Regions from separate parts of the Homo sapiens genome. Here region 1 is linked to region 2. The links come from fine-mapping of genetic effects on gene expression. A gene starts in region 2. The other region holds a variant in brackets. All regions are shown on one strand. Distances are from middle to middle. Region 1 overlaps ARID2 (AT-rich interaction domain 2). Region 2 holds the start of SCAF11 (SR-related CTD associated factor 11).

Region 1 (5,389 bases), 180 kb before region 2:
CTAACATTAATGGGATTTCCAGCATCAGAATTCTCAGAAATGTTTCTGATTATTCTATTTTCCTGCCATGGTAGCAGGAAGATTTTTTTTTCACTTGTCATGCTTGTAATGGTTATAGAGGAATCCACAGCTTGAAAAAAATCAAGTTGGAAAAAAATCAGCGCGAGTGTTGATACTCTCTTGAGTGGAGTAGACGGGCTCCAGTTTTCAGTGGCTCTGGAGGTCAGGACTGTGATGACTAGGAAGAGAGGTCTAAGGAGATACACATCTTTGTTTTTCCACTCACTAACATTTGGCCTAAAAAAAAAAAGAGATACTTGTTTTTCAAGCTATGTTCTTTATAAAAATTATAATTATTCTAAATATTTATTATCATTATTATTATTTACTGGTACTAGTTCTGTACTCTTACAGGTTATCCTTAGATTTATACTGTCTCATTTGTGGACTATCATCAGTATCATCAACTTTTTTTTCGTATTATCTATTTTCAAAGTTTCTTAAAAGTTGAATTTGACTTCATATTTCTTCCCTAATCAGTAATGACTGAAGAAATAGAATCTTCTTTTAGAATCTGCGATCTCCATTAGAAGAGGCTTCATCTGATGCTTTTGTATAATTGGGGTAGGGGTGAAGCAGGGAGTGCCAACAAAACCTAGCTTTGTTTTTAATGAATAGTTTTTACTGCAAGAACCAAGAGTAAAGGAGAATATTTTAAGTCACCTTTAGAAATGCTTGCTAATAGTTTATGCTGATAAGATAAAATGGGGTGACTTGTTAGGTGATGTGCTCCTTGTTTCTAAAAAGAGCTAATGACCATTATCTAATTCAAGGATGTTAAAAAAGATACTCCTACATCGAATGAGATGTTGTGCTAATGACCTTTAAAGATCATTTTCAACTTACAACTCTGTGTGATCCCTGTATTACAATAATAGCAGAGCTATTAATCCTTGTAACTTAAACAGACTTTGGTGTCCGCTACTACTGTTCCCAAACAAACACTTTTCTATGTTTGGTCTTGTTTAAAATAGATTTTTTTCCTGAATCTGTTTTTTCCCATTTTCTATTGATCTGCTTTGAGAAAGATCATGTGAAATATTTTTGGTATTTCGGAAGCCTATAATGAAAGTTACTGATAGAGCTACACAGGTTAAAGGAGTGATAGAATTGCTTAACCTGTTGTTAAAACAACCCTTTTCTGATATGCTATTATATGTGTGATTTGTTTTAAGAGAATCTGAACAGTTACATTTTATGTGTAACATGTGTAATGAAGTCAGGATTGGAGATTCATGAAGAGGAAGAAACTGGGAACTGATGGGGAACATCAGATTACAGAATATCTAGTTCATACTGAAAAGGGGTAGAATTTCAGGGCAGCATTTATACTTTATGTTTTTCTAGAAAGAGCCATAGCAACATCATGACAGTATTCTAAAAATTGACATGATTATCAATATATAAAGCAAATAAGTCATTAATTTTTCTTTTAATGTGTTATTAAGGAAAATAGAATAAGCTCCGTGTGTGTGTGCGTGCATGTGTTCTAAAAAAAAAAAAAAAACCACCAAAATGAAATTATCTAATATTAGATTGAGAGTATTTAAAGAAATTTACTTAGAACTTTGAGAAGATATGTATTTACATATTTGATCATACAGCCTTATTCCCCTTGTAGCTTTGAATAAATGTATTTATCCAGAGATACTTTTATTGTTGACATTAAGAAAAGCTGTTCTAAAATATTTTGAATGGTAGTATAATAAATTTCAGTGGTCAGTAGTGCTAGAATATAGAACATCGTACACTGATAGAATGTGGGCCTGAATTTGCCTTTGAGGATATTGACTACTTTTGGCCAATAACTTTAAGTGGCAAAAAAAAATATTGTGGGTTTTGTTGCTTTAAGCTTTAAGATTCTTCAACATTGGCATCAAGTACATGGTGGTTTTTATCATTCATTTGCATAGGTTTTCATACTGTTTTTGACATTACATACCTAATACTTCAGTTTCCTTCTTTCTCTGTTTTTTTCCTTGGTATTGATTGGATATAATCATTTCTGCAGAATTATTAGGTGGATTATTATTATTATGATGATTTAATCCAACTCAATCATTTTAATAAAGTGAAGCCAAGTACCCGGTCCATTTGCATTTTTGGTACTTAAATTTTCGGTTTCAAGAAGGAAGATATAAAAATTTTTTATTAGCTATATTTGAGTAAAGATTTTCTTTAAGCATTGCATATTCTAACAAGACATTTGGACTACAACAATCACTGCCAATATAGATGGATAGAATATATTGTAGAATTTCTACAGTGTACATAAACAGCACTCCAGGAACAACTCTCCCTTTCTTCTAAATTGAAAACAAAGAGAAGTGACTGCCTCAGATTAAATTTGTCAGTAGTGACCCACTTGTATAAATTTTGAATCAAGAATGTTGAAAATATGGACGGGCGCGGTGTCTCACACCTGTAATTCCAGCACTTTGAGAGACCAAGGCTGGTGGATCACCTGAGGTCAGGAGTTTGAGACCAGCCTGGCCAACATGGTGAAACCCTGTTTCTACTAAAAATACAAAAATTGGCCAGGTGTGGTGTCGCATGCCTGTAATCCCAGCTACTCAGGAGGCTGAGGCAGGAGAATTGCTTGAACCCAGGAGGCGGAGGTTATAGTGAGCCGAAATCCACAGCACTCCAGTAGCCTAGGCGACAGAGCAAAACTCCATCTCAAAAAA[A/G]TAATAAACTTCCCTCCTCATTCCAGTTATAAAATTATAGCTACTCAACCATATCTCCTTGAGGGAATGAAAGGAGGATCTTAAAATTTTATAAGCATTTTCTCCTACATAATTATCTTAGGAATCTTTACCAAGGAATTTTTAATTCGCCAAATGATTATAATAAATTGGTGCTTTCACTGTTATCTGAACTCCCAAATGAAGCAGACTTTGCTGTTAATGTATGCAGTCTCCTGTCAAATGAAAGCAAGCACATCATGCAACTTGAAAATGATCCTAAAATCATCACTTTACTACTAAATGTTTAAATATAATTAAAGGATATTTCATAATTGTTATGTTTATCTTACTCTAATTGAAGATGTCTTTGACAGAGTCATTCTGGTAAGGATGTATTGAATGGAATATCTGTCATTTTACAGTAGGAAATAGCACAATTCTAAGATCATATTGAAAACATAAACTTTAGGACTGCGACAGATAAGGAATACGGGTTCCACATTTTTTTCTATTCAGATTTACCTGAAAGCTATGTGGAATATAAAAATGTAAATTAATTATTGCTAAGACTTGGCTTATCATCAGTCCAGTTTACAGTGTAGAATATAAAAATCTGCTCCTATATTCATAGAAGTTTCATTACTTTTTCTCCAGATATTTATTTTATGTTACTTATGAGAAATTTCATTTATAAGGATTATCAAAAATGAACAATATATTCTTATTGTCAAGCTTTAAATATTGTAAACAATCTGTGTCATAGCCATTAAAAACTGTGTTGTGGAATTTCTTCATTATGTTGGAGACACTGCTAGAATAGGTTAGAATTGAAGAGGTGTATCTCTTCAACTGTCTGCATTTGGAAATGAAATTCTTTACTTACATGATATTCTTCTGTGGTATGTTGTGACAGTAGATTTCTACTTGCATCCTACTTAAAGAGATTGTGTGTGTGTGTGTGTGTGTGTTTTTAACTTTTAAAAATATTCAGATATTTCCGAAATATTCTTTTGTTATTGTTGTTAAGAGACAGGTCTCACTTCGTCGCTCAGGCTGGAGTGCAGTGACTTAACCAAAGCTCACTGGAAACTGGACCTCCTGGGCTCAAGCAATCCTCCCAGCTCAGCCTTCCAAACAGCTAGGATTACAGCACACACCACCACAACTAGCTAAATGTTAAATTTTTGGTAGAGACAGCATCTCATTATATTGCACAGGCTGGTCTTGAACTCCTGGCCTCATGTGATCTTCCTTCCTCAGCCTCCCAAAGTGTTGGGATTATAGGCATGAGCCACCATGCCCAGCCTGAAATATTCTTGAATGTTTAAATTTTAGTTTTTTGCCTTTTCCCTTAAACTTGTGACAGCTTTATTTGAAAAAATGTACTTGTGATATTTGTCTCAGGACATAGTTGCCAAGGTCTAAACTGCCCCGTTAGGATTCAGTTATTTCTAAAAATACAACATTTTTTATATATGTGAATTATGATTATATAGTATCTTAGTGTTCTGTAAGCCCGTTTTATCCCATCTTCAAAGTTTTGTAAATGTTTTAAATTAATTCTCCTGTGGAAAATCTTAGTTGCTTTGGTTTAGGCACAAAAGCATGAACCATAAAAGTAAATATTTGTAACTCAGACTTCATCAAAATTAAAATTTCTGTTTAAAGACACTTAAGAAAATGAAAAGATAAGCCACTAACAGGGAGAAAATATGTGCAAAGCAAATATGAAACAAAGGACTCATTTAGAGTATTTAGAACTGACAGTATTAAGTGCTGGCCAGGATGGAGAGCAATAGGAACTCTTTATATTGCTGATGGAAATGCAAGATGTTACAGCCACTTTGGAAAACAGTTTCACAGTTTGTTACAAAGTTAAGGATACACTTATGTGTGACTCAGCAATCCCACTTCTAGGTATTTATGCCAGAGAAATGAAAAAAATATGTCCCGACAAAATCCTGTCTATGTTTCTAGCGAGATTTATTAGTACTCACCAATAATTGGAAACAATCTAAACGTCCCTCAACTAGGGAATGGATAAACAAACTGTGTTTAGAAAGGTATGGACTACTGATGCACTTATCAACATGGATATGAATCTCAAGAGCATTTTGCTAAATAAAAGAAACCAGACAACAAAAGACTATATTGTGTGATTCCACTTATTTGGCATTTTGAAATAAAATGATAGGAAAGTAAATTTGATTTGTAGTACCTAGTGGTAGGGGATGGAATTGAGCATGAGAAACTTTTTGTAGTGATAGAGATACTCTATATCTTGACTGTGATGATTAAAACTATACATCTGTCAAAACTTAGAATTGTAGAACTAAAATTAGCATGGGTTTTACTATGTTAATGATATTGCAGTAATTTGGAAGAAGTCCATTGAAATGCAATAGTAAGAAGTGTAGATTAGTCTGGGCACAGGGCTCATGCATGTAATGCAGCACTTTGGGAGGCCGCAGCCGGAGAATTGCATAAACTCGGTAGATTGAGACACCAGCCCGGGCAACATAGGGAGACCTCTCTCTACTAAAAATAAAATTAGTTGAGCATAGTGGAGCCTTCCTGTAGTCCTAGCTACTCAGGAGGCTGAGGTGGGAGGATCACTTGAGCTTGGGAGATTGAGGCTGCAG
Region 2 (5,389 bases):
TTACAATGAAAATTATTCTACAGTTGACTTTCTTTTTATTACTTTTATGCCTGCTACTCTCTTTAATTAAGGTGCTACAACTATCTCTGATATACTTTAAAAGTTCAGTATTAAGTTGATGGGTAGTATAGTACTGTATTTTCTGATTACTAAAAGATGTTACTGATGATGAATCAACAGTATCATGTAACTGCACTGATTCATCCTATCTCTGCTGAATAAAAGCACAGGTTTTCCAGAAAACTGTCTAAGCTCTAGTTGGTGCCAAAGGACGATAGAGAGCTAAGTAACTCCTGAAAAGTTTCGATCTTAACACACTAGCCCTATTACCACATGAAGGTATTAACAGAAAAAATTAAAAAATTATCCGTAAAATTTTCTCCATGACATGTTTTCTGGCAACATATTTAGAAACTTTAAATTTTCTTCTACAGTTTTCTTCCCCTTTATACTGAAGAATGTCTTTAAAGCATGAGTATACTTACAGTAAGCAAACATTCAAATTTTACCCCAGTGAAATCTTAAAATGTACTCAAACTCTCAGGCAAAAAGTTCACTATCTGAATGTGAAAAACTGAATGACTGTTAAAATATCTGCAAGCACCAAAAAATATTATAGCTAAAATGCAGCTACCCTAAGAACTGTTTTTAAAAAACTCACATTGCATAAAAAATATAAATTCAGATTATCCGATAGGATAATATAAAACAAAAGAAATCCAAAGACAGTTTCAAGATTTCATTTCTCTTGCTTAGTTAAAACAACAAAAACAAAAGGCCCATGAACTTTTTCTTGCATCTTTTAACCAAAATAGTGACATGATCAAGCCAACTGCCAAAGAAACAGGAAAGAGAAAGCAATTGTTTAGAAACAGACTTGATTACATGTCAAAATTTTAATACAATTACTAATAAAATACAAAAACCAACCGTTATTTTAAAATGTACTGCCCTGATATTCTGCTGCTGAGGTAGGTGGTGATATGTAGAAATTAATTTTTCTTTTAAAACGAAAAAATAATGCATTTATTAATATGCTTTTCCCAAAATTCGGGGAAAATTCCCAAATCGGAGAAAAAAATTTAACATCAGCATCTACTACACAAAGCATTAAAAACATTTTTCAGCAGTTTTGCTTAAGTATCTTAGGTCAGTGGTAGCATGTTAGCCAAAATGTAATCCAAAATGAATGAACAACAGTCAGCTGGTAGACACTGTATGTAATACAATACGGAAATATATTGGAAGTATTTCAAAATTCAACATTTGAATCCGTGAATGTCTAAATCAAGTACTCTAAATCAGGCGTCTACTTTTGAAACAATACTTCAAAATACGTGTTGGTGGCAAGACCGCCAGCCATCTGTAGGAAATCTTTTTAATGGTTCAAAATTCCTAGGTCTCAGAAGGGGCGACTGATTAGGCTAAATTTATATCTCCCGGCCCCGTAGTTGTCAGCCCAGGTAGCGAATTTAAAACACTGGGGGTGGATGAGTAGTTTGAAGTTCAGATCAAGGAGTGAAAAAGGCTGATGCTTAGAAGCGCCGGCTCTTCCCCATTCGCGCACTCGAGAGGTCACGGCGTAGTAAAGTTTGGTTTCACTAGCGGGCTTGGACGCTCGCGACCAAAGTCTCCCAAGAAAAGCCGACACCGCGGTCGGGAGCGCCCGGAAGCTCAGCAGGACACGTTTCCACTGCAGGGAGGAGGGTGTCTGTGGCGGTTCTGGCGTGGAGCCCCTTCCCCCCCCCCCGTAGGACCCTGCACCCGGACGGGGACAGGCTTCGCCAGCTAAGGCGGCGGGAGACGCGTAGGCCACAAGGAGGAAATGGGACAGAGTGCGACAGAGAGGCGGCGGCGGCCCAGGGCCGGGCCGAGCCTCCCTCGCGGGGCAGCGAGAGGGAAAGGGGCCCTCCCGGCCGCAGCCTCCCCCACTTCGAGAGGTAGCTCCAACTTTCCTCCCAGCGCACGACGTCGCACGGGCCGCGCGAGATTCCGAAACTTTGTCAGCCCTCGCGTCGCCCTAGGCCCGCTCCAGCGCTCTGCGCCGGCCGCTAACCCTCGTCTCTCCCAGACAGCTGCCCAAGCCCATCCACCCCGCGGGTCGACCAGTGTTTACCTCAGACCGAGGTCGAGGCGCTCGGTCCGGCCGCGGCCCCACAGTAGGTTCCCAGGTCCCAGTCACTCCGCTGCCAAGTTCCCCAACATGGACTCCTTCGTCCGCTTTGTGGTGTTACAGGGTCTCTAGGACACTGACTCCGCTGGCTCGGTCCGGAGGCGGCGGCGAAGCAGGGAGCGACCCAGGTTGCGCTGCTCCGCGCGGCTTAAGCCACCGCTACTCCCCCTTCCCCCGCCTTGTCTAGCCTCCTCCCTCCCCTCCCCTCCCTGCGCGTCTCCCTCCTCCTCCCTTCCCTCGCTGTCGGCGCGCTAAGGTGACGACGGCGGCAGCCGGACTCGCCACATTCTGCTTACTCGCTCGCTCTGGCCCTGAGTGCATGTTCGTAGTACCCAGTTGGGCCGCAGGGGGGCGCTGGCAAACTGCTGTTTGAGACCGAGAAGCGTGGTGGGTGGAGTCACGTCACGCGGCCTGTGAGCGGGAGGAAGGGCAGCTGCGCTGGAGGGGCCTTCTGGGAAACGTCCTTCCAGCACCGCCCTTCGCCCACACTGCGGATGGTGCGCATGCGCAGCGCGTGGACTTTGGCCTCTGCCCTCCTTTGGCAGTTTTACAGGCTGCGTCGCGGAGGACAATGAAAGAGGCTTTAAGGGAACTGGACAGGAAGGATTTTGCGCAGGGTGTGCTCCTTATCTTTATGGTAATCTGATATTGAAAAGAGTGTCCGCATGTTTGCGGTGGATTGAGTGTTCACCTGGCTGCGCTGCCCACCTGAAATGCAGCCTGTGGAGTGAAGAGTCGGCAATTTGGAAGCCCACCTTTCCTCCTTTCTGGTGGGCATTTTTTTAGATGCCAGGGGGAGAGCTTTCCCGCCTGACTCCCCGAGCCTAGGGGCTTTCCCATGTCTTAACCCCACATCACAAAATTAAATTTGGGCCAGGTGCGCGGTGGCTCACGCCGGTAATCCCAGCGCTTTGGGAGGCCGAGGCTGGCGGATCGCTTGAGCTCAGCAGTTCGAGACCAGCTTGAGCGACGTATTAAGATCTCGTTTCTACAAAAAATAAAATTAACCGGCCGTGGTGGCGCGCACCTGCGGTCCCAGCTCCTCGGGAAGATGAGGTGGGAGAATCGCTTGAACCCGGGAGGCGGAGGTTGCAGTGAGCCGAGATCGTTCCACTGCACTCCAGCCTGGGCGACAGAGCGAGACCCTGTCTCAAACAACAACAAAAACTTTATCATTATTTACTTAAAAGGCCTCCGCGTTGTGGTTAGATAGTGACGTGTGTGCCATCCTCCACTTTTTCCCCCGGCGGGTTGTTAAATGTTTTGTTTTACCTCGGAGGTATTTTGACTTTTTCAAAGTCACTGATTATTTAACCTCCTAGTTTCTCTTCTCGTCGACTGCAGCAAGCTTCCGGTTGCTCTGCCTGCCCTCAGTGTCCCCCATCTACCAGCTGACCTTCCAGTCCTCCCACCCACGCCCTTGTCCTGCTTGCGGCTCCCGCAGGACTAAGCTCTGCTCCCCGCGCGCGGCTCACCCAGGTCCCAGTCGCTTTCAGCCGCGCGCTCACACGTTTTCCTGTCGCCTGCCCCCGTTCTGTTCGCGCGTGCTGCGCTCTCCAGCCACCCTGACGCCTGCCCGGGATGAGTTTCCTCCCCACTTTGCCGCGGCCCCGCCGACCGACCGCTTCACTGCCGCCTTCCTGCATTCTCGCAGACTACGTTGCGGCGTCCCCTGCTCCCGCCCTGAGGACGTCGCTTTTCTGGCACTTTCATCCTATGCATTCTGTTGAGTCTGCTCACTGTCTCACACTGTGAGGATTGGGACAGTGTCTTATCACTTTCATAACAGCGTCTGGCACTTGCTGAAGGAACACATGAATGGCGGTCTTGTCGCTGTCAAAGTCTTTGGAGTTTTTCAGTGTACTGTTTTTGATATGGGGTTTGGGAATTTAGGTGGCTTTACTGTATTTGGGATATTTGAGGGGAAAATGAGCTAGAGGCGTTAAAATGCTTTCTTCTGATGGAACAACAAAATTCTTATGAAGGACCTTTCCCTGTCAAAATCAGAGCAAATAGTAAAGGATATATACTATTTGGATATAAAGAATGATTATAAAGGATGATTGTTAAGAGAAATAGTGAAAATTAGTGTGGAAAGCTATAACCAGATCAACATTTATGAGCCATCCAACAGAATAAGGGTGTAGCTTTTTTATGTATACAATCTCTAGGATTCACTCTAGAGAGTGTAACTCCTGATATGGACTCCTGGTGCAACATGCTTCTGTGTATGTTTTATATTTTAAAAAATCTATATATATTTAAAATCTAAATATATTTTTAAAAATCTCAGTTTTGTTTTAGGAAAGTGTTTTTTCTCAAAATTTAAGCCCAAATGATAAAATCTGCCAAATAGAAAACTATTTTAAATTGATAATAACAGTATAGTTTCATCAAAACTAAAAATACCAGATCTTTTGATGTATTTGTTTCCTAGCAGAGAATTAAGTTTTCACGTTCTTACTGTTGGCCTCCTAGATATCATGTGAGCATGTCTTAAGGAAAAATGCTCTTAATGCCACTGTGGTTTCTACCTTCATGTGCAAATAGAAGAGAGTGGTGGTTTGTAATAGGCCATTCTTTCCAGAGAAAAGTTCATGTGTATTTCTGTATATGCAGCATCCTCCTTATTATGTTTGGATGTAAAGATTTATTATTCTCTCTGATGTTTTCATATTTTTTAAATTTACAATATAATAAAGAGGTACAGAGTTCTAAATCAATAAAAGATGGGCTATAAAATGGAGGAGTAAAGTTGATATATGAACCATCATTGTCAACATTTTAGATTTGATTTTAACTGTAAAAAGCACAAATGATATGCATCATAAAACAGCCTTAAACTGAATGTCCACTTGGTGTGTTGCACTTTACCAGGCACTTAAAATATCAGTCCTGTCACATAGCAACAGAAACCCACAGTGGCACGTTTAAAAATGGGTAATCAACGTATTGATTTTGATGGAGCTTTTTCAGAAATAACTGCTATTTTAATTTAACTTATAAATAGAATACAATATCAAGTTCAAATTAAGGGAGGAAATCATGCTGTAAATATACTGGATTGAAAAACATGGTTCTGGCCAGGCATGGTGGCTCATGCTTGTAATTCCAGCACTTTGGGAGGCTGAGGTGGTTGGATCACTTAAGGTCAGGAGTTCGAGACCAGACTGGCCAACATGGTGAAACCCCATCTCTACTGAAAATACAAAAATT

The links. PIP is the estimated chance that this variant, and not a neighbour inherited with it, causes the effect. A credible set is the group of variants that fine-mapping cannot tell apart.
Region 1: its variant is the best candidate, but not a certain one, in a credible set for the expression of SCAF11 in lung (TOPMed, PIP 0.51).

Annotation. Positions count from the first base shown.
Region 1 is chr12:45,811,908-45,817,296 of GRCh38, forward strand. The region is part of intron 4 of ARID2 (AT-rich interaction domain 2); the gene reads left to right. Among named protein-coding and RNA genes, the nearest start is that of ARID2, 85 kb to the left of the region's middle. The variant A/G (reference allele first, on the strand shown) is at 2,748.
Region 2 is chr12:45,988,237-45,993,625 of GRCh38, forward strand. It overlaps SCAF11 (SR-related CTD associated factor 11), which reads right to left and starts at 2,338. Exons shown (of 15, transcript NM_004719.3): 1 at 2,117-2,338. RefSeq lists silencers at 1,412-1,481, 1,882-1,981, 2,322-2,371 and enhancers at 1,632-1,681, 2,042-2,251, 2,060-2,773, 2,492-2,691, 2,702-2,771 and 1 more.